Regions from separate parts of the Homo sapiens genome. Here region 2 is linked to region 1. The links come from fine-mapping of genetic effects on plasma protein levels. Region 1 holds a variant in brackets. A gene starts in the other region. All regions are shown on their reverse strands.

Region 1 (6,712 bases):
GTGTAGGACACCGTTGGTGGCAAGGAGGTCAGCCACATCCACGCTGGCATTCTGCACCCAGACCCTCTGGAAGGCAGCAGCAGAGCTTAGCCACAGGTGGGCACAGATAGACCCTTAAAGGTGGGGCAGCCCCAACAGAGAGACTGCCAGGCACACAGGCACCCACAGGTGGTCCGCAGGCTGGCCCACAAGCTGGGTTCTGCACAGAAGCTCCTCCCAGGAGCTGACTCTGATCCTGAGTCAGACTCAGGACCCACCAGCTGGGCACACAGACCCTCCCCAGGGCCCGTGGTGACAGGGGCGGGTGTGCATGTGCAGACTGAGATGGACAGAGAGCCCCTGCAGGCAGTCACTCCTGGCCCAGCGACTCAGTGTCCATCAGCAATGCGTCCTGAGCACATCCTTTGAGCCCGGCTCTGGGCAGGGCGAGGGGACCCCAATCTCATCCCATGGGGCCCCTGATGTGGGAGAGCCTGCAGCCACTCAGGCTCCCTCCCATGCCCTACCTGGTCCCCTTTTCTGCCCAGAGTTCACCACATACCCCACTAATGTTGCGAATCTCCCAGCGTGTGGTGGGGTTCAGGGTGGCCACTTCCTGCCCACCCAGCCGGGCCAGCTCCTCCTCGAAGAGGGCACCCTGGAGAAAATGGGCCCTGACAGGGCACAGTTTAGGGGGGTCATGGAATCAGGTTAGTGTAACTTACAGAGACCTTTGGGGCTGGGCCCACCCCAAGGGGTGAGTGCCTGCCAGGCTGAGGACTCGCTGGGGAGGGACTGGGTCCCTCAAGGAAGCCCCTCCCACAGCCTGGCAATGGCGGCCCCACCTGACCAGGTTCGGCAGCGTCCTTGGCTGCAGCCAGAAAGCTCGGTCCTCGGGGCTCAGCTGACGGACTGCAGCCTCGGAGGGCACCAGGGCTGTGACTCGGCGGTCGGCAGGAAGCGTGATGCCGGCACTCTGCACGCACACAGGGAGCAGGGGCGGGAGGAGCGAGGAAGGCAGCCATCATCTTCAGATCCCCTGCTCTAGGCTCCAGCCCTGCCCCCAACCTCCCACGCTTGGAGATGTTATATGGCACCCCTCCATCCAGGCAGGCCTCCTGGATTTGAGCCCTCAACCCCAGCATTCTGCCCTGTCCTACCTTAAGCCATTGGTAGAAGATGGAGAAGTGGGCATTTGCCTCCAGCTCCTAAGGGAAGGGAAAAGTCTGAGGTCACAGGACCAGGGGCAAATTCAAGCCCCTTCCCCACCATGGATCCTGAGCAGTGCCCCTTTCCCACCTGAGGTGCTGGAGAGGGCTCCTTCCCAAGCACGGGGAAGACAGAAAACGAGTCTGAGCACCCCTTACCCGGAAGATGTCTCCATAACAGCTGAAGCCATCACCCCCAAAGCCAGGGGGGCACGTGCAGACCCGCTGACCTCCCCCCACTGCCCGGCAGGTGGCCTGGGGTGGGAGTGAGAAAGGGCCTCCATTCAGAACCAGATGGCAGCTGGGCCCCTCCCTCCCCCATCTTTCTGCCTGTCCAGCCACCCAGCCCCAGCCCCTGCCCCTTGCTCTGCAGCCACCCAGTCTGTGTTGGTGGCACTCCTTCGGTGTGCCTAGCCCTGCTCTCCAGGACACTGGGCATTTGACACAAGCATTACCCATGCCAGGTGGATGCGAGGGAGCTCAGGGCTGTGGGAGGACCCAGGAGGCCCGTATCCCCAGGAGCCAGAGCTGAGAGCAGGAGGAGCTAGCCAGGCCCAGGTGCAGCTTGCAGAAGCAGGAGTGTGGTACAGTGGAGCAAGGGCAGGGGATGGTGAGGAGCTCAGCGTAGCCAAGGACAGTGGAAGTGGGGCAGGAGTGGAACAGAGAGACGAGGCTGGGCAGGGGCGGGTGAAGGGGGAGAGGAGTGACATGGTTGGATTTGAAGTTTAGAAAGATCTTAATCCTGAGGGGGTACAGAGAGACACCCAGAGATGGGGAGGGAGGGAGAGAGCTGCAGCCCAGGCTCACCCCAGAAAGCTTCCCCAGGGCTCTGAGCCTTGCACCCCCTTACCAGGCCGTGGCAGCCGCCATTGCCTGCCCGGCAGGGGTCGATGGGGCTGCACTGGTAGCCATCCCCGGCAAAGCCCAGCTTGCAGGTGCATCGGCTCTGGAAAGGTTAGGAACAGACGGCCTTGTCTCATGATGAGCATCCAACCCTTTCTTCCTCCATTACTTGGCTCTCTCTGGTCACTGCCCCCAGGGAGGTCTGCCCAGACCCCAGAGGAACTTCTCCCAGCCCTCCTCTCAGAGATCTGTGCTCCAGATGGGGAGACAGAGGCCCTAAGGGGAGACTGGCTCTCAGGATGAGTCCACGGAGGTGAGAGCATTTGCAGAGAAGCATCCGTGGAGACTTGGTGCTCCTGCACTTGGAGCCTGGGGCCCTGCCAGGGCCATTGAGGCCAACAGCTTGTGGCAAGTGTGTAGGTACCTGCCAAGGCCAGCCCCAGGATAGTGGCTTAGATCCCACCTCCACCCCTGCCACCCTACTCAGCTGCTCTAATCCCCCAACCAAATGCCAGTGTCCCTGGGCTTGTCTACACTGCAGGTGAGTGACCAGCGAGACCCCTCAGCTCTCAGGTGCCCTTGTTTGCACGTTGGGAGCATCTCACTGGCTCATTCAACACCTCTGTTCTGAATTAAGGCCCTAATGGGGTTTGGAGCTCCAGCTCTTACACCTGTCAGTTCTTACTGCTAAGGCCCCACGTGCTGGTGCCCAGAGGCCACCTTGGAGTTGGGAGGACAGGGAGCCCCACAGGCCTGGCCATGCAGAGGCTGACCCTGACCAGCCAGGCCTGGCCTCCCACTTGGCGCGTTAGACAGTCTTCAATGCCTGTCCAAACACTGGTTCACCAGTCCTGAAATGCTCCACATGGAAGGCTCCAGGTTCCGAGCTCCCGTGACTAGATTCAGACACTGCAAAGCTCCGGGGCTGGATTTCCATGAGGCTAAAGTTTTGGGGAGGTCACTCCCACGGGCAGGGGCTTTTCCTGCTTTGCTCAGTATCACATTCCCTACATCTAGAACACGGACTAGCATGGAATAGGTGCCTGAAAACACCTGGGAAAGCAATGAGCCAATGGATGAAGGAGCGAATCCCAGATGCTACTACTCAGCATGTCAGCACTGGGTTCTCATCTGCACCTGAGGCTCCAGACCCTGAGCACCTGACTCTGCATTCCAGGAGTCAGATGGGGCAGGGAGAGAGTCCCCCAGAACCAAGGCCCCCACCCCTTCTCTGCTGCACCTCACCTGCCCGGGGCCCACATAGCTGCAGAGGGCATCGGTGTGGCAGCCACCTCTCATGTCCAGCTCACACTCGTCAATAGCCACACAGACGCGGCCATCCCCACTCCAGCCTTTGTGGCATGTGCAGTGGTGGGTGCCCAGGGACCCAGGGACACACTCAGCCTGTGAGAGCCATGGATAAATAACTGAGGGACACAAGAACGTAGGCAGAGGGCCAGGGCATCCCACCTCCTGCCTCTGGGTCAGAACTTCAGGGAAGGAGCAAGGGGACTGACATTCTCTGAGCAGCCTCCACGGTCCGGGTGGGAGCAGGGGTTGCTAGGTGTGCAGGAGAAGCCATCACCCTCAAAGCCATCAAGACAGCGACATCTGGGGGTGGGTGAAGGAGGGGGCTCCAGTGAGCCTCAGGTATGAAAGGTCACGGGTGGGGCAGACAGAAGGTGTGGGTCCTCACCTGGCAACACCCTCCTGGCTAACACAGCGGGCATGCAGGTGGCAGTGCTGGGCCAGCCCTGTGGGCCCACAGTCCCCCATGGACTCGTTGCAGAACCGGCCACTGAAGCCAGGGGCACACGTGCCCTGCTGGCACACCCCCCCACTGCCTGGGCGGTTGTCGCAGAGACCATGGACACAGCCGCAGTCTGTATGGAGTAGATGGGAGCAAGGAAACTGAGAAGCAGGAGGCAGGGCTGGCTGGGAGCCAGGATGGGTTTGGGGGATATAGGGAGTGGGGCAGCCAGTACAGATTTGACTTCAGGGTGGAAAAATCAGAGGTTATCTCAGACTCAATGGGCAGGCAGATGAAATGTGAGGGGGGCATTCTGAGCTTTCAATTATCCCATTCTAGTTGCCCTGATCCCAACACCACCATCAGGAAGTTCTTCAGTGTGTCTGACCTAAGTCCCGCATACTTTAAGCCACAGTTCCCTTCCTGGCCTGGGTGAAGCAGACAGCATCTCCTTTCTGTTCTCAAATCTTCCTCCACTCCCCTTGGCCTTCGTCCCTCCTCCTGGGGCTTCGTTTCCCTTCTTGAGAGCCCCCAGACCCATTTTTAGGCAAATCTTCCTCCACTCCCCTTGGCCTTCGTCCCTCCTCCTGGGGCTTCGTTTCCCTTCTTGAGAGCCCCCAGACCCATCTTTAGGCAGACGTTTTTTCTCCCTAGGAGGTGGCCTGAGCCAGGACCACCCACCTTCCTGGCATTGCTCTCCATGCTTGTTTGGGTTCGAGCAGATGTGGCAGGCGATGCCCTTGTAGTCTGGGAAGCAGAGGCAGGCCCCATTGCCCTGGATCCCATCACTGCACTAGAGAGTGAGCAGAAGGCAGGATCAGTCATGGGAAAGGGACTCTCTACATCCCCTCTCCCAACACCCCCTCCTTTCATGGGCTGGCTCTGAGCTCTTGCTACCCGTGAGAGCTCATCCTGGAAGGGATCTTCAAAATCACTGATGCCGCCAAAGACCTAGCCCCTAAAAGGCACCTGGCCCTGGAGGCTTTATGAGCAACATTTGCTGGATGCAGAAACACATAACTCCTGTGTTCTTCTATAGCCAGGTGCTAAAGTAACCGTGATATTACAAAGTGGTAAAAACAGAACACAAAAGAAAACC[A/G]CCAAGTAGCCTTTTTGGAAATAAATGCCAAAAAATCTATCTATCTATCTATTATTATTATTATTATTATTATTGTTATTTTGGGATGGAATCTCACTCTGTTGCCCAGGCTGGAGTGCAGTGGTGCAATCTTGGCTCACTGCAACCTCCGCCTCCCAGGTTCAAGTGATTTTCCTGCCTCAGCCTCCTGAGTAGCTGGGATTACAGGTGTGTGCCATAACACCAGGCTAATTTTTGTATTTTTAGTACAGACAGGGTTTTGCCATGTTGACCAGGCTGGTCTTGAACTCCTGACCTCAAGTGATCTGCCCGCCTCAGCGTCTCAAAGTGCTGGGATTACAGGCATGAGACATTGCACCTGGCCTCTCTAATTATTTTTAATTAAAATATGAGAAATAATTTGATCCAACTTTCCACTGCATAGATATGAGAATCCCAAGGCCAGAGTGGCAGGCTTGGCCCAGACACACAGCCAGTCACTGGCCAACCGGTGAAGGAGTCCTTGTGTTCCCCATACCTCACCCCAGGAGAGGATGGGACTCACATTGCCTTTGCCATAGCAGGGGTTGGAGAAGCCCCCAGGACACTGCGTGCAGTCAGGCCCGAAAAAACCTTTGCAGCAGCCTTGTTCCTATAAGAGACAGAACAGGTCCAAGAGGCCATCTGGGTCCATGCCCTCCCTGCCCAGGCTGCCTCTGCTCCCTGGCCCCATCTCCAGAGTGACGGAGTGGATAAGGTTTCTCTGGGACCCCTTTTCCACCGTCAGGCTGCAGTGCATCCTCTGAGGGAGGGAGCCCACTCAGCCCCAGCTTGGGGGCCCCCGAGGAACAGCAGGTGCCCAGGTGACCTGGGAGTGGGCACCCATGCCCACGCTTACCATGATGGTTTGGTTGCAGTAGCTGGCACAGCCCTTCTTTAGCACATTGAGCCCCGTTGGGTCATGGATGTAGACACACTCCTTGGGGAAGATGTCCTAGGGTGGGCCATGCAAAGCCAGTCAGTGGGTGTGGGTTCTGGGCCAGCCCCTTTGCTAGGCAGCCCTGGTTAAGGGACCTCTGCCCCCTGGGTCCAGAACTCTAACCCTGGTCCAGTGGGGCTGCGAAGCACTTAGCCTCCAGGTGTGATCTAGCCTCCCAGCCTCTGCTTCCCCCACCCACCCCTGTGACCCAGGGCAGAAACCTCAACAGGCAGTCAGGAGGCCCTGAGAGCTGGGCCAAGGTGTGCTCACCAGCTTCACACTGTTGGGGGGACACGTGCTGGTGTTCAGGGCTTGGCAGTCCACACAGGAGCCCTGGGCAGGGCAGGGGCAGGATGGGGAGAGGGGTTAGTCATTGTTTATTTACTCGGCAAACCCAGAGAAGGGAACATTGAGTGGGGATTAAGGGATGAGAAGAGCCAACCACAGGAAGCCCAGCACTGGCATTCCAGGCAGAGGAGAGCAGGGGCAGAGGCCCCGAGCCGGGCAGAGCTAGAGTCTCTGGAAAACAGCAGAGAGGCCAGAGGCAGGCACAGAGTGAGTGAAAGGGGATGGAGCGGTGGAGGATGCAAGAGTTATCTCAGGCCAGGCTCAGTGGCTCATGCCTGTAATCCCAGCACTTTGGGAGGCCGAGGTGGGCGGATCACCTGAGGTCAGAGGTTTGAAACCAGCCTGGCCAACATGGTGAAATCCCATCTCTACTAAAAATACAAAAATTAGCCAGGCATGTTGGCGGACACCTGTAATCCCAGCTACTCGGGAGGCTGAGGCAGGAGAATCGCTTGAACCCAGGATGCGGAGGCTACAGTGAGTTGGGATTGTGCCACTGCACTCCAGCCTAGGCGACAGAGCAAGAC
Region 2 (8,438 bases), not on the chromosome of region 1:
AGGAGGGCTGGAGATTCTGTCTTGTGCACGGTTGCCTATAAAGGGTTAAAGAGTGCCTGGTGCTTCTAAGATGCTTGTTATGGGATGAATCGTGTACCCCAACATTCACACTGAAGCTGTACCATGCACTACCTTGGAATGCAACTATATTTGGAGATACAGCCTTTAAAGAGGTAGTTAAGGTAAAATGAGGTTACGAGGATGGGCCTGATTCCAATCTGACCTCATATTCCACAGCACCCACTCGGAACACCACATCTGTGTCCTGCCAAATGATGACTGTGCGAGCCCCTGCCCCCTCTCCTCTCCAACTCGGGTAGCCCTAGGCTTCACCCGTCTTCCAAACAGTCGTTCTCACTTTGCTGCAGCAGCGGCCTCTGGGAAAGGGCCCTTGGGTTTGGGCAGCTCAGCCTGTCAACCCAAGTCTGTCCTTCTGGCACACAGCTCCTCTTTCTTGGAGCCCCTTTGCTTGGCCTGGGTTGGGGGGACCCACCATCTCTTCTCCCTAGGTGCTCTCTGCTTTGATGAGTTTCCTTCAAAAACTCTCCTCAGGCTTCTCTAGCTCCGGATACAGGAGGGTGGATAAAGGAGCAGTCTAGCTGCCTGCCAGCAAGACACACAGGGAGGTGTCTGCACCTGCAGAGAGAATAGGGGTCTTGTCCTTAGCTGTTGTCCAAAACAACAGAAAATGCTCCACTCCACAGGCTGCTGTGCTTTTAGAGGAAACCAAAGTAAGACCTTGAGTCAGTCAGGGTCCTCTCAGGAAACAAAGGGTGAACTCAGCTGTTTGGGTTTTTTTTTTTTAATTCAGAGAATTTAATGAAGGGACTATTTACTTGGGTGTGAACATTAAGAAAACCAACATGGGGCATTGAGGCATCCTGGGGCTAGCAAGGATGACAGCCCTCATCATCCCAGCCTAAGGGGCAAGGGGAGGAAACAGGGTTACTGGAGACAGTGAGGGAGGTTATGGCAGGAGATGTCATCAGGAGGTGGGGGGGAGGGGCGGGAGGGACAGCGGGCACAGCTACGGCCAAAACTGCAGTGCTCATCAGGACAGGAGCTGGGAGAAATACTTCAACCTCTCTCTTCTCCCATCTCCTGCTGGTGTCTCCCATTAGTCAAACCCAGCTGGAAGCCAGGGGCCATGGAAACCCAGCGATGTCCTCCCTACAGGGCAGCCCCCACACCAGGCACAGAGGAGGATGTGGGTGGATCAGGGAACGCAGAGAACAACCAGCACAGGCCTAACCCAGGGGCGGAAGCCATACCAACTTGAGCAAATGTCTTACCAAAATGACATCGAGGAAGCACAGGGGGTCATCTGTTTTTACTGAGCCATCTGGGTTTGACAATATTACAGCATACATTACAATGACTATTACAGAGGGTATTTAGTGGAGACTTTTTTGTACACTTGCAGCCACTTCTCCTCCTAGTCTCACACTCGTTTTCTGTATTATAGTCAGGGATGCCTCTCTCCCTGAATCAGTCCAGTTTCCATCAAGTAACACTCAGGTTAGGACAATTTGAGTAGCATTTAATAAAAGGACTATTTGCTGAGGTGTAAGCAGGAGATGGCCCCCTATCTCTGGGCTGGTAACACCAGGGCTGTCAACACCCCTAGACCTGAAGCGGGCAGAGGAGGAAGGAGTCACCCACAGTGAGTCAGGAGGCTGTATGGAGATGGCTACCTGGCAGGACTTGAGACTGTTGGCTGAGAAACAAAACCAGTGTGTGGGGACTCTACAAGGAGGGGAATGAATATTCCTACTTCATTCTCCTTCCCGCTGAATCCTGATAAGCTCCTCATTGGCTGGACCCAATCAGAAACCAGAGGGTGAGGCTGGCCTTCCGGGGCCCAGGGCAGTAGGGAGAAAGGTGGGGAGGCAAATGAAAGGTGTCCAACTGCACTCCCCTTGCCAAGGGATGCATAAAATTACCCAAGCAAGGCCAATGGGATGGACCCTCCTCACTCCTGGAATCTGGCAGACAGACAAAGCCATAGCCATGTGCATTGAGCAGCATCAACCCAACATTGTCCCACCACAGGACCCCCACTGAGGGCCTGCTTTCCAGAGCCCAGGGCAGCCTCAGCTCCCACCCACCCCTAGTCTAGACTCCCAGCAAAGCCTCCCAACAAAGTCAGAGTTAGTGTCTGTTGTTGGCAATGACAGAATCTAGACACAAACATCTTTATGCATGTGAGTTGGGGGTCTCTTTCAAAAACATCAGCAGGCAGAGCAAACTGATCACTGGGAGGGCTGAGAACCAAGCTCAGGGCTTTGCAGCCTAAGCCTAAGCCAGTGTCACTCAGCACTGTGCTTGCCAAGCCACCACCAACCACCCAGAGAAACTAGGACCCAGACAGCACTGGGGTCACCATCGCCCCAGGAATGGATTCTTCCTGCTTCTGCTTCTCAAATCACTTTCTCCCAAAATGAAGCCCAGGACCGTGCATTTTATCAGCTAAACCAAGGCCATGTGCCTTCAATCAAACTGCAAGGAACCCTGGAAATGTGAACACCCAGCATTCTAGTTAGGAGAGGAACACCCCAAATGTGGGAAGAGGTTTCCCATGCTGGGCAGCCAACAAGTAATGTCCCCCAGCTGTATCTGTAGCCTCTTCAACATGTCAGAGTATTTCCTCCAGACAACACCTTAGAAGGATTACCGACTCTGGGCATGTTATTACCAAATTTCTTTACCACAAAAGTTAAACTAATTTCCAGCCACATCCAGTGAACACAGTGCCTGCTTTGCTGCACCCACACACATTATTGCATTTTTTAAGTAAAAACTAATTGGCAAAATGTAATTGATACCTCGTATCTTAATTCTCTCTTTTCTAGGGGGAGAAGGAGTTTCTATGTTTGCTCATTAGTGGTATTCTCCAAAAGTCTTCAATACTTGACTTTGGACCATTTTAGTATTTGTTTTGATAACTGATTTTTTTTCATTATTTTCCCTTTTATAGACTTGTGTTAAAATTAGCTGGCATTTGCTGAAAGAAGAGATCAGGATTAGATTCAGCTGTGTGTAACAGAAAAAAAAACAACAGACACTTAAAATACATAGAAGTTTCTTTCTCTCCTGCATAAAAAAGGCCTAGAGGAGGGCAGTCCAGGGCTGTTTTTGTACCGACTCCACAAAGTCGTGAGAGGCTTTGCCAGTTCCTCCTCTGCCATTCCCTGATGAGGCCTCATCTTCCTCATCCCCACTGTCCAAGGTGGCAGCTAGAGCTCCAGCCATCACATCCAGCAGGACAGAGGGCAGGATGAAGAGGGACAAGCCACCTACCTTTACAACATACCTGTTGGCATCTTGTTGGCCAAAATTCAGATGTGTGACCTCACCTAGCTACAAGGGAGGCTGGACAATGAGCCCAGATAAAAATCAGGATCTTACTACTGAGGACTAAGGGAAGAACGAGTATTGAGAGCCAGCCAACTGTCTCTTCCACAGGCAAGCATACAAGCTGTGTTGAAGACAACCCATTCATATGAGAATCATGATGTTTATGATGACGATGACGATAGCTAATATTTACTAAATAGCTGCCATTTGTAGGCACTGTTTTAGGAACTTGATATGTATTACTTAATCCTTACCACACCCCTATGAAGTAGATACTATGACTATCCTCATTTTACAGAGGAGGAAACCAAGGCACAGAGAGACTAGGTAATTTTTGCAAGGTCACCCAGCTAACAGGCAACAGAATCTAGATTTGAACTGAGGTAGCCTGACACAAGACACAACTATGAATAGAGGCAATCACAGAACCAAGTCAGGGAGGCCAACTGGGGCTTTGCCAAGGGGCTTATCTATTGACTCAGGAGTGGAGAGATGGGACCTAAGCCAGAGCTGCCTCATCACTTTGCCTTTGAATATTTCATCTGTTCATCCATTCAACACAAATGTCCTTTTGTAATACACCTTACATTTGCAATTCACTGTCCAAAACCTGTGCTTGCCACTCCTTGTGGGGCAGATACTGTATCCTCAGCAGCCAGCATAGCCTATAGCACACAGCGCTCAAAAGATATCTGTGAGCCAGGTGTGCTGGCCCTGTAGTCCCAGCTTCTTGGGAGACTAAGGTGGGAAGAACATTTGAGGCCAGTTCAAGACCAGCCTGGGCAACATAGGGAGACCCCCCCCATCTCTACAAAAAAATTAAAAAATTAGCTGGGTGTGGTGGCACACCTGTAGTCCTAGCTCCTTAGGAGGCTGAGGTGGGAGGATCACTTGAGCCCAGGAGCTTGAGGCTGCAGTGAGCTATGATTGCACTTGGGCAACAGGGCAAGGCCCTGACTCTAGTATCTTATCTATATATAGATATAAATACGTAAGTGACTGTGCATGTACATATCAAGCCTACTCTGTGCCAGGCTCTGTGATGGGCACTGAGCATGCAGAAATGAGACACACACCCTGCTCACTGGCCCTTATGGCCAACAAAAGGAGGCAGATGAGCGGGCACCACAAGGAGCAGCACAAAAGAGTGGGGACCTCCATGGTGAAAAGTCTGGAGTGGCTGCACTGTAGTTTATGAGTCACAGCAATAAGGGACAAGGTCCTCAAGGTAGGCCAGAGACAGACTTGAAATTCCTTTCATGTCCAAGGTGAGAAACCTAGCCTCAGCCCTGAGGCAATAGGGAGCCATGAGGCTTTAAGCAGGGTGACATAATCTGAGAGGCCATCTAGAACAACTCTCCTGGTAGTGTGCCAAGGATAGGAGGAGAGAGCCCAGAAGTAGGGAGATTCAGATGAATCTGGGAGGTGTGGGAGCCAAAGTGAAGGGTTTGGAAGAAGAAAGGAGGGGTGGAGTGAGGAGAAACAAAAGAGGTCCCATACCTATTGCATGTGAGCCAGATGGGCCAGGGAACTGTGGGAGGGGAAAAGAGTGGGCCTGAGGTGGCCAGAGTGAGGGGGGCTGGGGAGGGGGACTGGAGAGGGGCCCTGGCCTGAGCTGGGGCAGACAGAGCAGTTGGACGCCAGCAGCCTTGTGCTCATGGCTCAGAAATGTCCCAGGCCTGCCAAGAAACTGCTGCCTCTGTCCCCCCACCAGCCCCAGCCAGGCTCCCACATCAGGAGCTCTGAAACTGTCCCCTCAGCCTTCTGCTCCCCCAGAGCAGGCCTCCCGTCCCCAGAAGCCAGGCATATGACACCCCCACTCTCCCTCAGCCCTCCCCCTCAATGGCTGATGAAACACAGGCCAGGGAAGGAGGGGAAAGAATAAACAGACATCTGCAGGGGGGCCCATCAGGAAGTAGGGGGCAGGCTGCGGCGGGCTGGGGCTGCCTGGGGGCGCCAGGGGGCCCACAGGTCTAGCAGGGTGGGTGGCAGATGGCGGATAGCGGATGGAGTGGGATCCAGGGAACAGTTGGAGCCAGCAGGGAGTTAACGTCTGCAGTACTTTGCCCGACAGGACTAATGAGACACAGGTGGTCCCCTGGCTCCAGCCCCACCTCCCAGCCCCCTGATAGTGTAAACTGATGCTGGTTGTCTGGGGTGGGGAGAGGGGGGTTCTGCAGCTACGGGAAGGGGGGCGGGGCTGGGGCGGCTGGCGGGGGCCCAGCGCATAACTCTGGGCGGTTGCAGTCTGGGGCCGCAGACACCCAGCCACTCTGAGCAGAACTGACAGCATGAAGGTACGGGGCCCAGGGTCGGGGGACTCATAGCATGGGGGAACTGAGCCCACTCCAGAGGCCCCTGGCCACAGAGGGCACTATGAAGGCACAAGGAGTTCTCTTGAAACTCGTAAGCTATGAGGGTACACAGCGTCCCAGAGAGTGGGGTTACTTGGCGGGCGGGGTGGGGGGGCAGGGAAGAGGGGCCAAATAGCAGGAGAGGGATTCAGGCAAGGGCAGTATGTGCATGCATGGTGGGGGCAAATGCAAAGAGAACAGGGGATCTCTGGAGCTGGGAAGGGGCTGTGCTGACCCTGTCTGCCCATCGCCAGGCACTCCTGGCCCTGCCGCTGCTGCTGCTTCTCTCCACGCCCCCGTGTGCCCCCCAGGTCTCCGGGATCCGAGGAGATGGTAAGCAGCCCCACACTCACAGACGCGGCCTGGCCCACAGGTTGTGCAAGAAGAGGCTGGACTGTCAGAACAGACTGTCAGGGCCGAGCCCCAGCTCTGCAGGACTCAGGTTCCTCCTTTACAAAATGGGGCAGATGGATGACATAAGCATTGCTCATCTCCCTTGAAGAAATCTTCCATGACTCCTTGTGTCAAAGTCCCCCAGCCCCAGGGACTGAGGCAAACCTTGGGGTGCTGAGGTGTCAGTGATGCCATAGTCCCACTCTCCTCACTGTCCCCATGTCCCTACCCCCAGCTCTGGAGAGGTTTTGCCTTCAGCAACCCCTGGACTGTGACGACATCTATGCCCAGGGCTACCAGTCAGACGGCGTGTACCTCATCTACCCCTCGGGCCCCAGTGTGCCTGTGCCCGTCTTCTGTGACATGACCACCGAGGGCGGGAAGTGGACGGTGAGTGGGAGGAGGGAACAGAGGCCAGAGCTGGTTCTAATCCCAGCCCTGTGACCCTGGGCTTCACATATGCGAACCTCAGTTTCTTCATCTTTAAAATGGGGATAATGATACCCACAGCACAGCTTCTGAGCAGCTGCCAACGCTTAATTCTAAGTGCCTGAGGTAGGTGTTTGTTTGTTTGTTTTGAGGCGGAGCCTCACTCTGTCATCCAGGCTTGAGTGCAGTGGCTCCATCTCAGCTCACTGCTGGAAACTCCACCTCCCAGGTTCAAAAGATTCTCCTGCCTCAGGCTCCCGAGTAGCTGGGATTACAGGCATGTGCCACCATGCCCAGCTAATTTTTTTATTTTTAGTAGAGATGAGGTTTCACCATGTTGGCCAAGCTGGCCTTGAACTCCTGACCTCAGGTGATCCGCCCGCCTCAGCCTCCCAAAGTGCTGAGATAACAGGCGTGAGCCACCGCGCCCAGCTGAGGTAGGTTAATGCACATAAGCCTCACAATAATCCTGGGAAGTAGTGAGGAACTAAAGCCCAGAGAGGTGAAGTAACTTGCCCAGATCCCACAGCTAGGCACTCGAACTCTAGAACGCCTCCCTCTTAGCCTCTTTCCTGCCTCTATACGAAACTGGGTATGAAGAGCCCAGGTGGGTGCTGGCAACTGCTCCACAGGGGGCCTGGTGCCAATGTGGACGTTGTTTTAGCAACCCCACTCCCACCACCCTCCCCACCCCCAACCCAGTCCTTTAACAAACTGGCCACAGCATCACAGGGTCCATGCTTGAGGTGGGCAGGGCAGGACCAGAACCTTGCCCATTGGACCCTTGATGATCCAGTCTCATCTTCTCTGCTCCAGGTTTTCCAGAAGAGATTCAATGGCTCAGTAAGTTTCTTCCGCGGCTGGAATGACTACAAGCTGGGCTTCGGCCGTGCTGATGGAGAGTACTGGCTGGGTAAGGCAGGGACCAGGTGGGCTGAGGGGCTGCCCCAGGGCCAGGTCCTTGTTGACCAGCTGCCCCTCCTCCCCAGGGCTGCAGAACATGCACCTCCTGACACTGAAGCAGAAGTATGAGCTGCGAGTGGACTTGGAGGACTTTGAGAACAACACGGCCTATGCCAAGTACGCTGACTTCTCCATCTCCCCGAACGCGGTCAGCGCAGAGGAGGATGGCTACACCCTCTTTGTGGCAGGCTTTGAGGATGGCGGGGCAGGTATAACCCGCTGTTAGCTTTGGGAGGGGCTGTGAGGGGAAAGAAGGCAGGGCTGGCCCTGCCCAGTCAGCCCCAACCTCCTTCAGGCCCCTCCTTCAACCCTTCTGGATCTGGAAGGGCCACAGCTGGCTCCAAACAAGCTCAAACCAGCTTGGGCCTCAGCCCTGGGGAGCAGCCATCCTGGCCCTGCTCCAGGCAACTCTGTGGTGGAGCAGCTGTTTCTCTTCATTGCAGAAGCACATCAACCCAACATCTGGCTCAGGGAGGGTGCCCCCATCCCGCCAGGCTGCCACGTGATATCTCTCACAGTCGTCATTGTCACCCTCTCCCGGCCAGCTCGGGGCTCAGTTCCCTGCCTCAGCAGCCCCAACCCTTCTCTCCTCTGCCAGGTGACTCCCTGTCCTACCACAGTGGCCAGAAGTTCTCTACCTTCGACCGGGACCAGGACCTCTTTGTGCAGAACTGCGCAGCTCTCTCCTCAGGAGCCTTCTGGTTCCGCAGCTGCCACTTTGCCAACCTCAATGGCTTCTACCTAGGTGGCTCCCACCTCTCTTATGCCAATGGCATCAACTGGGCCCAGTGGAAGGGCTTCTACTACTCCCTCAAACGCACTGAGATGAAAATCCGCCGGGCCTGAAGGGCTGGCCCCCTCAGGCACCTTTCCTCCCCTGGACACCCATGGTCTCCATGAGTGCTCCCTCTGCTGCCCCTGATGCATGCTTCTGCTGATTCC

Which allele goes with the higher level. Alleles are on the strand shown, and positions count from the first base shown. The strength of an association depends on the size of the effect and on how common the allele is.
As copies of G replace A in region 1, the plasma level of the protein whose gene starts at base 5,614 in region 2 goes down (moderate association).

The links. PIP is the chance, under the fine-mapping model, that this variant and not a neighbour inherited with it causes the effect. The UK Biobank Pharma Proteomics Project read protein levels with antibody pairs (Olink). The fine-mapping took linkage between variants from a reference panel, not from the people measured, so its PIPs are less certain.
Region 2: MFAP4 starts here. The variant in region 1 is fine-mapped to the plasma level of the MFAP4 protein (UK Biobank, PIP above 0.99).

Annotation. Positions count from the first base shown.
Region 1 is chr3:52,507,071-52,513,782 of GRCh38, reverse strand. STAB1 (stabilin 1) reads right to left here. Exons shown (of 69, transcript NM_015136.3): 19 at 6,108-6,170; 20 at 5,757-5,852; 21 at 5,424-5,510; 22 at 4,462-4,573; 23 at 3,727-3,913; 24 at 3,548-3,641; 25 at 3,276-3,434; 26 at 2,038-2,133; 27 at 1,347-1,442; 28 at 1,140-1,187; 29 at 825-955; 30 at 542-653; 31 at 1-66. Among named protein-coding and RNA genes, the nearest start is that of STAB1, 15 kb to the right of the region's middle. RefSeq lists an enhancer at 6,211-6,712. The variant A/G (reference allele first, on the strand shown) is at 4,880.
Region 2 is chr17:19,384,366-19,392,803 of GRCh38, reverse strand. It overlaps MFAP4 (microfibril associated protein 4), which reads left to right and starts at 5,614. Exons shown (of 6, transcript NM_002404.3): 1 at 5,614-5,654; 2 at 5,966-6,044; 3 at 6,340-6,494; 4 at 7,350-7,446; 5 at 7,523-7,705; 6 at 8,095-8,438. The coding sequence starts at 5,649. The coding sequence ends at 8,342. RefSeq lists enhancers at 785-1,698, 5,689-6,234, 6,235-6,780, 6,781-7,326.